Regions from separate parts of the Homo sapiens genome. Here regions 2 and 3 are each linked to region 1. The links come from fine-mapping of genetic effects on gene expression. A gene starts in region 1. Each other region holds a variant in brackets. All regions are shown on one strand. Distances are from middle to middle.

What was found. PIP is the estimated chance that this variant, and not a neighbour inherited with it, causes the effect.
Region 2: its variant is the best candidate, but not a certain one, in a credible set for the expression of SMPDL3A in whole blood (TOPMed, PIP 0.55).
Region 3: its variant is the best candidate, but not a certain one, in a credible set for the expression of SMPDL3A in non-classical monocytes (Schmiedel 2018, PIP 0.87).

The regions. Positions count from the first base shown.
Region 1 is chr6:122,787,446-122,791,686 of GRCh38, reverse strand. SMPDL3A (sphingomyelin phosphodiesterase acid like 3A) reads right to left here and starts at 2,429. Exons shown (of 8, transcript NM_006714.5): 1 at 2,229-2,429. The coding sequence starts at 2,340. RefSeq lists a cis regulatory region at 429, enhancers at 345-514, 1,618-2,117, 2,118-2,619 and silencers at 709-1,003, 2,109-2,403.
Region 2 is chr6:122,745,382-122,749,622 of GRCh38, reverse strand. It overlaps the pseudogene RN7SL564P and a transcript of FABP7 not described here. Among named protein-coding and RNA genes, the nearest start is that of FABP7, 32 kb to the left of the region's middle. The variant G/A (reference allele first, on the strand shown) is at 2,337.
Region 3 is chr6:122,695,273-122,699,513 of GRCh38, reverse strand. All of the region lies in intron 3 of PKIB (cAMP-dependent protein kinase inhibitor beta), which reads right to left. Among named protein-coding and RNA genes, the nearest start is that of FABP7, 82 kb to the left of the region's middle. RefSeq lists an enhancer at 2,388-3,587. The variant T/C (reference allele first, on the strand shown) is at 2,134.

The DNA.
Region 1 (4,241 bases):
AATAAATTTTTAAAAAGACTTCCAAAAATATGTGTGTGTGTTCAGCAAATCTAGAAAAACTCTCAAAATTATACCAGAAAATCTTTTAATCCAAAATATTTTATAACTTCTCAAGAATCCAATGAACCATAGTTCAGACATAATTCAGCTCGCCTTATGCCTTATTTGAACATAGTTTGAACACTCAGCAGTATATGAATGGTTGAAGTATGGCTGCTGGGATTGGCCAAACTTAGCTATTGTTACCAGTGCATACTCTTAAGTTAGGTTTTCAGTCTCATCTGACTATTAAGCTAGGTTACAGTTCATTCACAAGGATTCAAATATAGAAGTAAGGAGTCCTTCTCAGGCCGTATTTAGTTTGCTTTAACAGTACCAATACACAAGCCAGTCCCAGCCTACTCAATCTAAAGAACTGTAGCCAAAAACACACAGGTGAAGCTTCCTAGAACTTCTGTCGTCCGACCACCAGGACTTGACAGGGCAGAAAACTAAGACTGGGAATTTAAACGCAAAAACACAAAACAAGAAAGCAGTAGCCAGGCAGGGTGGATGCTGAAAGGAAGTCCAAGCATGTGGGGCTGAGAGGAGGCAGGAGAGTTGTCACATCAAGTGGAAAATACGCAAAATATTACAAACAAGGAGAATTGTGAAACTGCTGAGTGAACACTTCAGACCTTTGAACTCCAGTAACACTTCAGACTTTCGAACTCCAGTGACTCCAGTAACACTTCAGACCACTGAACTCCAGTAACCCCTCTTCCTTCCCCTTTAGTAGGAGGGGATTCAACCTTGCAGTTTCCCAAACAGGAGGTGTGAAGACTCACAGAGTCCCCAGAAAGCGCTCATTCAGGCCTCTTTAAAACACAGGTGAATTTGCCATTGTGTGGCCTCAAGCAACGTGAGACATTTTATTTCAAAACCCTAACCGGTCACATAATTAAAGGAACACAAGCTAAGCCGTAATAAAAGCAGAAACCAGTATACATAAACATTTTGGGGAAATTTCTTGTAATGACTGACATTTGCCACAGTTCGGAAACCAGATTTACAGTTTTTGCTTCAGACCTGACAGCTGAGTCGTGAGGACTTGGCCTTCAAAGAGAAGATATTTGCCCTAGAGCGCTCCCAAGTCCTGAGAAAGCACAGAGGGAGCGAAAGAGGTTTCAGCACTAGGTGCTGCTACCGAGTCTCAGGGACAACTCTCCCCTAAAAGAAAACAGAACCCCACTTCTCTAATTTTGTTTTTCCTCTTAACAGTGCAATTATTTTTAAAGGGAGTTGAGGAGGTGAGGGCACCTTGATTTTTGGAACTGGAGGCTCGGATGGCATTGTACAATCTCCCACCAAAATGTATCTATTCTGGACCAGTGAGTCTCAAACTTAGCCGAAAGGAATCATGCGGAGGGTGGGTTAAACAGCATACTGTGGAAGCCCAACGCCGGCGTTTCAGATTCAGTAGGTCTGGGATGGGCTGGAAATTTGCAATGCTAACAATTTTAAGTGCGGCGGCTGCTGCCACCGGTCCAGGGCACACTTAAGAGAATCACTACTGTAACGGGCACTGTGTTAAGTGCTGGGAGTGAATAAAATGGGTCCCGCCCGCAGGAAACCTAGTGGACATCCAGGTGAAATGAAGTCCCCGTGAGTTCCACGGTAGACTAAGGGGTGAGTCTACCCGAGGGTGCTTTCGCGCTCTGGCTGGGTGAGTGGCAGAAAAAGCCACTGATCTCGGTCGAGCAAGACAGAAGATAGTGTGAGTCACGCTGAAATTTACTTCCCTGAGCTGGTGGGGAAACTGCAGTCCCCCTCCATTCAGGACCGATTAGGGGCCTCTTGCTGTGCTGGACATCGGACTCCCAGCTTCCTCTTCCCTTGAGTCCCGCAGCTTTTCCTTCCTTCCCCAAGGAACAAAACAACTGAGATGCAGGATGTAAACAAAAGCCAGGCTGGCGAAATCCGGCCGACGCGCCCTTGGAGCGCCCCCACCGGCGAGGGCATTTCCCCCGCCCAGCCCCGGCCTCCCGGCTGGACGCCCTAACGCTGTAGTCCCTTGGTCGCCCTCCCCGCGCCCACCAGCCGTGGTCAACGCCGGACGCGTCAGGGGCCCCGCTAGCCCGAGCCTCTGCCGGGGGCAGCTGCCCCCACGCACTTTCTCCTGCTGTGCGCAGGCGCCGCCGCTCCGCGCTCTTTGCCGGCTGGGAAGAGAAGGGTCGCGGACAACTCACCTATCGCCGGAGGAGGATTCCTGCCGCCTGCGGGCGCCACGGGCAGCCCGAGGCCGGAGCGGCAGTGCCAGGCAGTCAGCAGGCAGCAGACGAGTGCGCGCACCAGCGCCATGGAGGGCCGCGGGGCTGACCTGGAGGTTCGGGCTGTCCCGCAGCTCCACTCGGACCGTCAGGCCTGAGGGTGAGGCGGAGACAGAAGACGGCTGCGGGTGTAGACGTCCGACTGATCACGTGCAAAGGCAGATTCCGCAGCGAGTCAGTTCGCCTGACCTTCAGCTGCTGTTTAGCGATGATCTGTTCTCGTATTTCTTAGCGTCAGTGTTTGGCCTAGGAAGGAATGTACTTGTAGAAGCTCAAATTCCGACTCGTGTATCAGTGGTGCAGTTGATGTCAAACACTGACATACTGGTGCTTGGGGATAGAGAAAGACATTCAATTTAGTAAAAGCCAGAAGGAGGGAGAACAAGATCTCTCAAATCCGTGTGTAAAAAGGAAAAAGCAGGGAGTTTTTATTCTGCTAGAGAATAAGAGAGGGGGATTTTCAAAGAATCCAGGGGAAAAGTCTGTTTCTTCAGTCTCAGATAACACCTTTGAGCAATTAGACGTCCAGGCATCCGCAGCTGGTTGCAAAGCCCTTGGAGGTATTCATCCCTTCTGCAAACATTTTTGTGACCCTGAAGTTAACCTCTTTGTTCTTGACGAGGAAGCAGTACCTCAGCAGTTTATAATTATATTGTGGAAACAAGGAGAATATTGGGCAAAAAGCGAGTGGTTAAAATGTGCAAGCAAGCAGGAGCCTGATCAGAATTTTCATTATTTCAGTCACTAAAAAATGCTGGGGTGCTGAAATCTCAACGATCCCGGTTCCATTCTTGGGCCAACCTACCCCAGCTTTAATGGGTAGGGCTCCTCAGTAGAGGTGATGCAGAGAGCCCTGAAGTATCATGATTTGAAGGAAATCAGCAAAAGTTATGGATACTGCAGTGGATCTCGAATTGAAGTCTCTGAACTGGGAACATTAGCACCACCTGGGAACTCTAGTTAGAAATGCAAATTCCCAGGCACCACCCTAGACCTGTTGAGTCAGAAACCTGCTGGAGCCCAGCAGTTTGTGTTTTCACAAGCATTTCAGGTCATGTTAAAGTGATTGTGATGTTTGAAAACCAATGCTCAAAGATACGACGTTTTGTTTTTTGTTTTTTTTAAACTGCCGGGAAGAGAAGGGTCTTAGAATTAGAACATGTTCTGAAATCATGCTTTATGCATTCCAGAGATGCATGGAAATCATAAGTAGAGGTGGTTGATTTGATGCTTCCACGGAACTTTTTTGAATATACTTCTGGCAAAGAAGTAAGTCTATACAAAGAAGTAAGCAAAGATAAGTCTGGCAAAGAAGTAAGTCTATACAAAGAAGTAAGCAAAGATAAGTCTGGCAAAGAAGCCAGAATCCCGAAACTGTGCTGGATCCTGTATTCTGTGTTCCTTCTCTCACCGTTTATGAGGATGCTGATCTCTTGGAGATGACAAGCTAATAATTTAAATTTATAGGGCGTGGAATTCCTTTGCAGAAGAAAATGCTTTCCATAATTACTAACCTCAAAAAAGATGTTGTAGAGTGTATTTCTTTCCCAGCATAGAAAGCTTTGTTTTGTATCCCATGTAATTTAATGGGAGTGTGTGTCATGAAACGGGCTTTGAAGTGGGAAGCAAGGTGCTTCCATTTTCTGTTTTGTAAACCAAAAATAAAATTTGAAGGCCCCCCACAACCATCTGAATGGACGACCATCTGTATGGACTCTTTCCCCAGTCAGGGCACTCTAAAATTTAACCTGAAAGACTGGTTCAGGCCATGAAAAAGGGGATGGGGGGGTTGGACATGCGTAATTAACATCAACATAGACCATAAGTCTGATAAGAAACATTTAAGATCTGTTTTCTCTAAAGCCTGCTACGTGGAGGCTTCGTCTGTGTGACAAAATCTGGGTCTAACAACCCCTTATCATAACCCAGACA
Region 2 (4,241 bases), 42 kb after region 1:
GATACTGGAAAGGATATATATGAAGTGATTCCCTGGATCTTGGGTGGTGTCAGTCATGAGAGTAGATATTTAGGGTTATAAGTCACGTTATTCCATTTTGGAGCATCGGACCTTAAGAAACAAAGACACTTCTTTTTCCTAATATGGAAATATTCACACATAAAAACAGAGAGAGAGACTATTAATCATCACTTAATTTTCACTATTATCATTATGGTCATGTGTTCTTTAATAAATGTAGGCAGCATCATAAAATGTTTTCAAAATTCAGAAAAATAAGCTGTTTACCTTTTTGTTGATTTGCTGTTTTGATAAGTGCAGATCTCCAATCCTTCTCCTTCAGTTGCATTCCACCAGGTTTAAGGGAGGAGACCACCCCTCATATTGTCTTATACCCAATTTTTGCCTCCAAAGAAAGAAGTAAAAACTAAAAGGCAGAAATGAAATCCACAAGCAGACAACCCAGTGCCACACCCTGGGCCTGGTAGTTAAAGATCAACCCCTGACCTAATTGGTTATGTTATCTATAGATTACAGACATTGTATAGAAAAGCACTGTGAAAATCCCTGTCCTATTCTGTTCCGTTCTAATTACCGGTGCACGCAGCCCCCAGTCATGTACCCCCTGCTTGCTCAATCAATCACGACCCTCTCAAGCGACCCCCTTAGAGTTGTGAGCCCTTAAAAGGGACAGGAATTGCTCACTCAGGGAGCTCAGCTCTTGAGACAGGAGTCTTGCTGATGCTCCCGGTGGAATAAACCACTTCCTTCTTTAACTCAGTGTCTGAGGGGTTTTGTCTGCGGCTTGTCCTGCTACATTTCTTGGTTCCCTGACCAGGAAACGTGGTGATTAACGGACAGTGGAGGCAGCCCCTTAGGCGGCTTAGGCCTGCCCTGTGGAGCATCCCTGCAGGGGACTCTGGCCAGCTTGAGCGACGTGGATCCTGAGAGCGCTCCCGGGTAGGCAATTGCCCCAGTGGAATGCCTCGCCAGAGCAGCACATGGCAGGCCCCCGTGGAGGATCAACACAGTGGCTGAACACCGGGAAGGAACTGGCACTTGGAGTCCGGACATCTGAAACTTGGTAAGACTAGTCTTTGGAACTTGCCCACTCCATTTGAGTGGAAGCATGGCCTGATCACCCACAGCATGCCTGTACTGGCACTTTGGTTTTTGTTTTTGACTTGACTTGAATTGCTTGATACTTTGGTTTTGGTTTTGACCTGGCTTGGATTTCTTGATACTCTGATTTTGGTTTTGATTCTGGTTTGGTGTAAACTGTAAAAGTGTGTGTGTGCCCTTTTTACCCGTTCTTCATTTTGTGGTGTGCGTGTGGTGTGAGTGTGGTGTTTTGTCTCGAGGAAATATGGGTCAGGCACAAAGTAAGCCCACCCCACTAGGAACTATATTGAAAAATTTCAAAAAGGGATTTAAGGGAGACTATAGAGGCATCATGATACCAGGAAAACTTAGAACTTTGTGTGAGATAGACTGGCCATAGAGGTGGGTTGGCCATCAGAAGAAAGCCTGGACAGGTCCCTTGTCTCGAAAGTACGGCACAGGGTAACCTGTAAGCCAGGACACCCAGATCACTTCCCATATATAGATTCTTGGTTACAGCTAGTTTTGGACCCCCCACAGTGGTTAAGAGGACAGGCAGCAGCAGTACTAGCAGCAAAGGAACAGTTCGTTAAGGAAGGTTCTCGCTCCACCCGCAGAGGGAAGTCGGCACCAAAAGTCTGTCCGACCCAACACCAGAAGAATCATGGCAGGAATTGGTACCAGCAGTACCCCCTCCTTATGGAGAGGAAGGGCTCCCCAAGCCCTGAGCCCACAGCACCTCCACCTCCACCAGATAACCACACCCCTAGACCGCCCAGAGTAGACAAAAGAGGAAGTGAAGCCGCAGGAGAAACTCCTCCCTTGGCAGCTCGCTTACTGCCCAAGACTGGAATCCAAATGCCCCTGAGACAGCAGCGATATACTGGGGTAGATGAGGACGGACACATGGTGGAAAGGTGTGCCTTTGTGTATCAACCTTTCACCTCTGCTGACCTCCTCAATTGGAAAAATAATACTCCATCTTACACTGAAAAGCCTCAAGCTTTAATTGACTTGCTCCAAACTATTATACAGACTCATAATCCTACTTGGGCTGATGGCCTCAGCTGCTCATGTACCTCTTTAATACAGATGAAAGGTGAAGGGTGCTCCAGGCAGCAACTAAGTGGCTAGAAGAGCACGTCCCAGCCGATTACCAAAACCCCCAAGAATATATAAGAATTCAGCTGCCAGGAACAGACCCCCAACGGGACCCGAATGAGGGACCAGACGTG[G/A]AGAGGCTAAGATGGTACCGTGAGACATTAATAGAAGGTCTAAAGAAAGGGTCTCAAAAGGCTACAAATGTAAATAAGGTCTCTGAGGTCATCCAAGGAAAAGAGGAGAGTCCGGCACAATTCTATGAAAGACTGTGTGAGGCTTACCGTATGTACACTCCTTTTGATCCAGATAGCCCTGAAGATCAGCGCATGATTAACATGGCCTTAGTTAGTCAAAGCGTGAAAGATATCAGGAGAAAATTGCAGAAACAAGGCTGAGTTTGCAGGTGTGAATACCTCACAGTTACTGGAAACAGCCAATCAAGTGTTTGTGAATAGAGATGCAACAAGCCGCAGAGAAAGCCGTAAGGAAGGTGAACGCCAGGCTAGGCGAAACGCCAACTTACTGGCCACGGCCATTAGGGGAATTCCTCTGAAAGGAGAGGGAAAGGGGGGGTTCCGGGAAGAATACCCAGTCTAATCCCCCACGCTTGCAACATAACCAATGCACCTACTATAAGGAAATAAGACATTGGAAAGATAAGTGTCCCCAGCTGAAGGAAAAGCAAGGTGATTCAGAACAAAAGACCTCAGATAAAGATGAGGGAGCTTTGTTCAATCTGGCTGAAGGGCTACTGGACTGAAGGGGACCGGGCTCAAGCACCACCAAGGAGCCCATGGTCAGGATTACAATTAGGGGCAAGGACATTAAATTTTTGGTCGATACTGGTGCTGAACATTCAGTAGTGACAACCCTGGTCGCCCCCTTATCCAAGAAAACCATTGATATAATCAGAGCAACAGGAGTTTCCACTAAGCAGGCTTTCTGTCTACCACGGACCTGCTTGGTGTGGGGACATAAGATAGTTCACCAGTTCTTGTACATGCCTGACTGTCCTTTGCTATTGCTGGGAAGAGTCCTGCTTAGCAAGCTGAGAGCCACCATCTGCTTTACAAAACAGGGCTCTTTACAGCTAAAGTTACCGGGAACAGGAGTTATCAAGGCCCTTACGGTCCCCCGGGAAGAAGAATGGAGACTTTTTCTAACCAAGCCAGGCCAAGAGATAAAATCAGCTCTAGCTAAGCAATGGCCCCGAGTATGGGCAGAGGATAATCCTCCAGGACTGGTGGTCAACCAAGCCCCCATACTCATAGAAGTTAAGCCTGGGGCACAACCAATTAGACAAAAGCAGTATCCAGTTCCCAGAGAAGCTCTTAAAGGAATCCAGGTTCATCTCAGGCACTTCAAAGCCTATGGAATTATAGTTCTTTGCTAGTCTCCATGGCACACCCCCCTCCTGCCTGTGCCTAAGCCAGGGACCAAGGACTACCAGCCAGTACAGGACTTATGCTTGGTCAACCAAGCTACAGTGACTCTGCACCCAACAGTTCCTAACCCTTACACATTATTAGGGCTGCTGCTAGCTGAGGACAGCTGGTTTACCTGTCTGGACTTAAAATATGCCTTCTTTTGCATCAGACTAGCTCCTGAGAGCCAGAAGCTGTTTGCCTTTCAGTGGGAAGATCCGGAGTCACGTGTCACTACTCAGTACACTTGGACCCGGCTTCCCCAAAGGTTCAAGAACTCCCCTACTATCTTTGGGGAGGCCCTGGCTCGAGACCTGCAAAAGCTTCCTGCTAAAGACTTAGGCTGCATCTTGCTCCTGTACGTGGACAACCTTCTGCTGGGACACTCCACAGCAGTCAGGTGTGCTAAAGGGACGGATGCCCTGCTTTGGCACCTGGAGGACTGTGGGTATAAGGTGTCCAAGAAGAAAGCTCAGATCTGCTGACAGCACAGGCACGATCCCACTACTGATCAGCACGGGAGTTTTGACCTGCTCAATTTCCGACCTGGGCCGGTCCACCCCTCCTTAGGCAACCTGCTGTTCCCCCGCTTCCGGGAGGTCACCATATTGATGC
Region 3 (4,241 bases), 92 kb after region 1:
TGGTGCAGCACAGTAGACTGCTGCAACCTTAATGCCATGGTCCCATACAGTTCAGGTCCCTATTTCCAACAAACTGAGTATTGAAACTTCTGACTCCATCCAATCAGCAACTGATAAATATTTTGCTACTATGAATTAGGCTAATATGATCCATTTGGTGCCAATGTCAGCAGTTTAGCAGTCACAGTTTGCTTTTACCTCCCATGAGACACAATATATATATATATATTTTAGTTCACAAATGCAATTCTTTTTTTTTTATTATTATACTTTAAGTTTTAGGGTACATGTGCACATTGTGCAGGTTAGTTACATATGTATACATGTGCCATGCTGGTGCGCTGCTACATAATATATTTTTACCAGGCTACTCAAGGGCTACCTCAGCAGCCTTGCTACTGCACACAGTCTTTGCAGGCAGGATCTTAATGACATCCACCTTTCTCCAGGAGCACAGGTATATTACATTGATGACATCCTTCTCCAGGAAGATTTGTTTGACGTATTCATTAAGAATATACAAATACAAAGGAACTCACACAAAAAGGGTGGATATTTCACACATAGTACAAAGTCCTGTGACTTCTGTTAAATTCCTGAAAGTTATTTGGTAAAGCAAAAGCTGCTCCATCCCTGATACTGTCAAAAAACAGGTATTAACCCTCTCAGTACCTACAAGGTTAATACAAGTCCAACATCTTTTAGTCTTTTTTGGGTTCTGGAGACAACATATTCTTTTGCAAATTTTCTTTAATTTCACTAGTGCTGTTACTTACAGATTGCCCATCTTAAAGGGGAACCTCCTCAACAAAAGGCTGTAGAAGCTGTCCAAAATGAAATCAACAGGCACTCCAGTTAGTGCCCTCAGAGGCTTCAGCGACCTCATCTCATGCCTCCTGGAGTCTCTAGGCCACCTGTGATGGTCATAAGTTGCTCATGGGCTTCTGATGCAAGAAACTGCCTTTCCTGGCCTTGTACTATACACCATTACAGTGGCAATTACTGGCCACACACTGGGCTTTTCTGGAAATAGAGGGTCTCACAGACTTTGAGCCTGTGACCCTCTGTACCCAGCTACTGCAATGCCTGGTAATGCATTGGAGCAGCACCCCCATGAATCTGGCCTAGCTATGAGACCTCTTTGCGACAGGATGGAGTCAAGCTTGGCCCTTCTGGCATATTCTATCTGTAGAAGGTGGTGGCCTCCTCTACCATCAGTCCTTTGCCAAAACCATGGTGCTAGGGGAAGTCATCCCTTTCCTAGAGTCCTTGGCTACCTGGAGAGCCCCCTGGGATCAACTGAATGAATGGCAATAGAAGGCCATACATTTTACCAATGATGTTGCCACAATTATACATGATAGAGCTCAGTAGAGAGTTGTTGCTCTTAATTCCTTAACCAAGATGTCCCTGATAAAGAATAGAACCCAAGGGTCAGCACAATTGGCACACTCTAGACATTTATCTTGGCAATGGATGCCCTGGCCATTTCACCTCATATGTATATTTTTACAACTCTTAGACCATTGCCTAAGGGTCTCACTTTAAAGAACTCTGTGAATCTCTTGTTTCACAGGTACCCAAATATAAATATATAAACCAAATCAACAGGTTTCTCTACATATCCTAAGGCCACAATACAAGGCCTCAACAGGATATTCCTTATCTCATTTGCAGTTTTAGACACTAGATTGTTACCAAGGCACTCATTTTATGTCTCAGAATACACAATGGAATCTTGAAGAAAGCTTTCCATTGAAATGCAGCCTTCCCATAGGCCTCAGGTAGTTAGCCCCAGGCAGCTACTTTAATTGATAAGCCTAATGGGTTTTCAAAGAACTATTTAAGTCACAATGAGACAAATGTCCCTCTACCCCCTTGATGTCACCACTGCCACAAGCATTGGTTAGTCTCAATTCACACCCCCTGGGAGCATCCACTCTCTACATCAATGTCACACAGGTCTCTCAATTGCTTTTACTGGTTATATATGGAGACATGCCCGAAGTTCATGTTTTTGGCAACCACCTCAAAATGTGGCCCTCTCTGCTTGGTCAGGTGCCTACTTTGCTTCCTAGGAAGGCACATCTCCTAATCCCTAAAAGTCTCAGTTATCATCAAGATTTAAACTGA[T/C]GTCAAAGCATCAAGTGATCAATTGTAGCATAAAGCCAAAAATTTAGGCTTGATATCTGATAAAACAGGTCTCTAATGGCCTAACTACAAGTTCTCCTCCCATAGATCAGGTATCCTAGACAGACCACCATCCTTATGAAGGGGACCAGGCACAGTTTCTATTTATCCTTGAGTAGCAGGTTTTGTTCTCTGTTTGCCTGCCAAATCAAACAAGTGAATCACATCATTCCACAAGAACTGGGAGCACCCTACCCTCTTAATTCTCCAAAGGCTACCTCCTACAGACCTGGTTGTTCACTCTGCTCTTGAGTGCAACTCCTGTGTGGCCCTGCAAGGTGTGCCATGTCCTCCTCCCCCAGGCCATCAGTAGACATGACTAATAACTTGCTGTTGGTCTCATCTCTTCAGGGTCAGGTGGTGTTTAGCTCTCCCTCACCCACAGGGTAAATAGGAGGTGACTAAGACACCCTACCACTAATAGCATGTTCCTTTCTCTCATGAAAGGGAGACTGAAGTGTGGAGAAAAGGCATCAGGTTCACACATATCCTGTGTCCACGCTGACCCTCACTGAGCTGCAATGTGTCCAGTTACATCAGTGTGCACAGGGATCCACTGCTATTGTCTCAGGTATAACTATTACCTCAGGTAGAGATATGTGCATCTGCATCCTCTTTGTTACATCTCTGGACTTTAAGGTTGACGGTCTATTTAAATCATTCTATGCCCTCCATGAGGTCCATGAAATCACTTCAGAGTTTCACTCCTCTGAGGGGCTGAGAACTCTGTGAGGTGGCAGTCAGGCCCATCTGCCTGGGCACTTCTCTTGACCATTGCTTGTCTACCTTTCTAGGGTCGAAGAACATACAAAGAGAGCTTCTTTTTGATACCCAAATTTTCCCTGGGAAGTGAGGGATAGTCCTCTTTACATTTGGATGTTCCTTAGAATTTTTATTATTCAATCTCCCTTCTGTTCAACCCAGTGAGCTGGAATCCTGGCCACCTTCACAGAGACTTGAATAATGACTGGGGTCTCATTACATCCTGAATTCTTCTCCCACTAGCTAGTCAATGACTCATTTCCCTTCCCAGAAACATCAAAACTTTTACATCATCATATAGTAATTCCCACTCTACGGTTTGTTCTCAGTTCTTCAGTTTCAGATAGCTCAATAAATCTTTTCTTTCAAAAAGTCAGGCTATTGTCATAAATAATGCTGACTTTCAAGACTATGGCTCTTTGTTTAGATTTTAAAAAACAGAAACTTAAGTGATCGTTTGTTCTAGATTAAGTGCATCATCCCTCAGTGAACCACCTTTATAGAGTATTAAAGCAAGTATAAAGGAGTAAAGAAATCTCAGTTGATAACTAAAAATGTTATCAGCCATACACAGGTAGAACAGCTACTCTTAATTGGGCCCTTAGCTAGGCAGTGGCTTTTATTAATATATATTGTACATGGCTTTATATGCAATATTTTATTTAATCTTTACCACAGATGTCAGAGAGGGAGGGAGAGAAGAGAGAGGAGAGATAGATTCCCTACAATTCAAAAGAAACAACTGAAATAGAGTCTTTTAGATATTAAGAAACTTGCCCTAAGCTAGGATTTAAGCCCTGTCACATAGGATTCCAAAACATGGATTTTAAAAAATTTCATTATATTGCCTTTTCTAGAGTCATAGGCCCTTATAAATTTAGAAGAGATTAGACTAAAATAACTTTATAAAGTTATAAAGAAGTCACCTAAAAGTCACCTAGTACAGCCATCTACAATATGCCTGAATCATTTCAACAAGAATATTTTTCTTCTTTGAACCGCATATTCACCATAGTGTTTCAGCGAACCCAAAATATTGTTTCAGTAATTCATCTGATATGAAAACTTTAATTCATTTTTGAATCTTAAAGATCATACAATTGAATAATGTGCATAATTTTGAAAAAACTTATTTTTTGTTCTCTATACCTATTATTACGTAATACACATACAATACAATAATGTATATAATATGTGTAATCCATGAACACACACACATTTAGGTGTCATAAAATTCTTTCACAGAATAAAACAGAAACAAATACTTCTCTCATTGGTGGTATAATCCT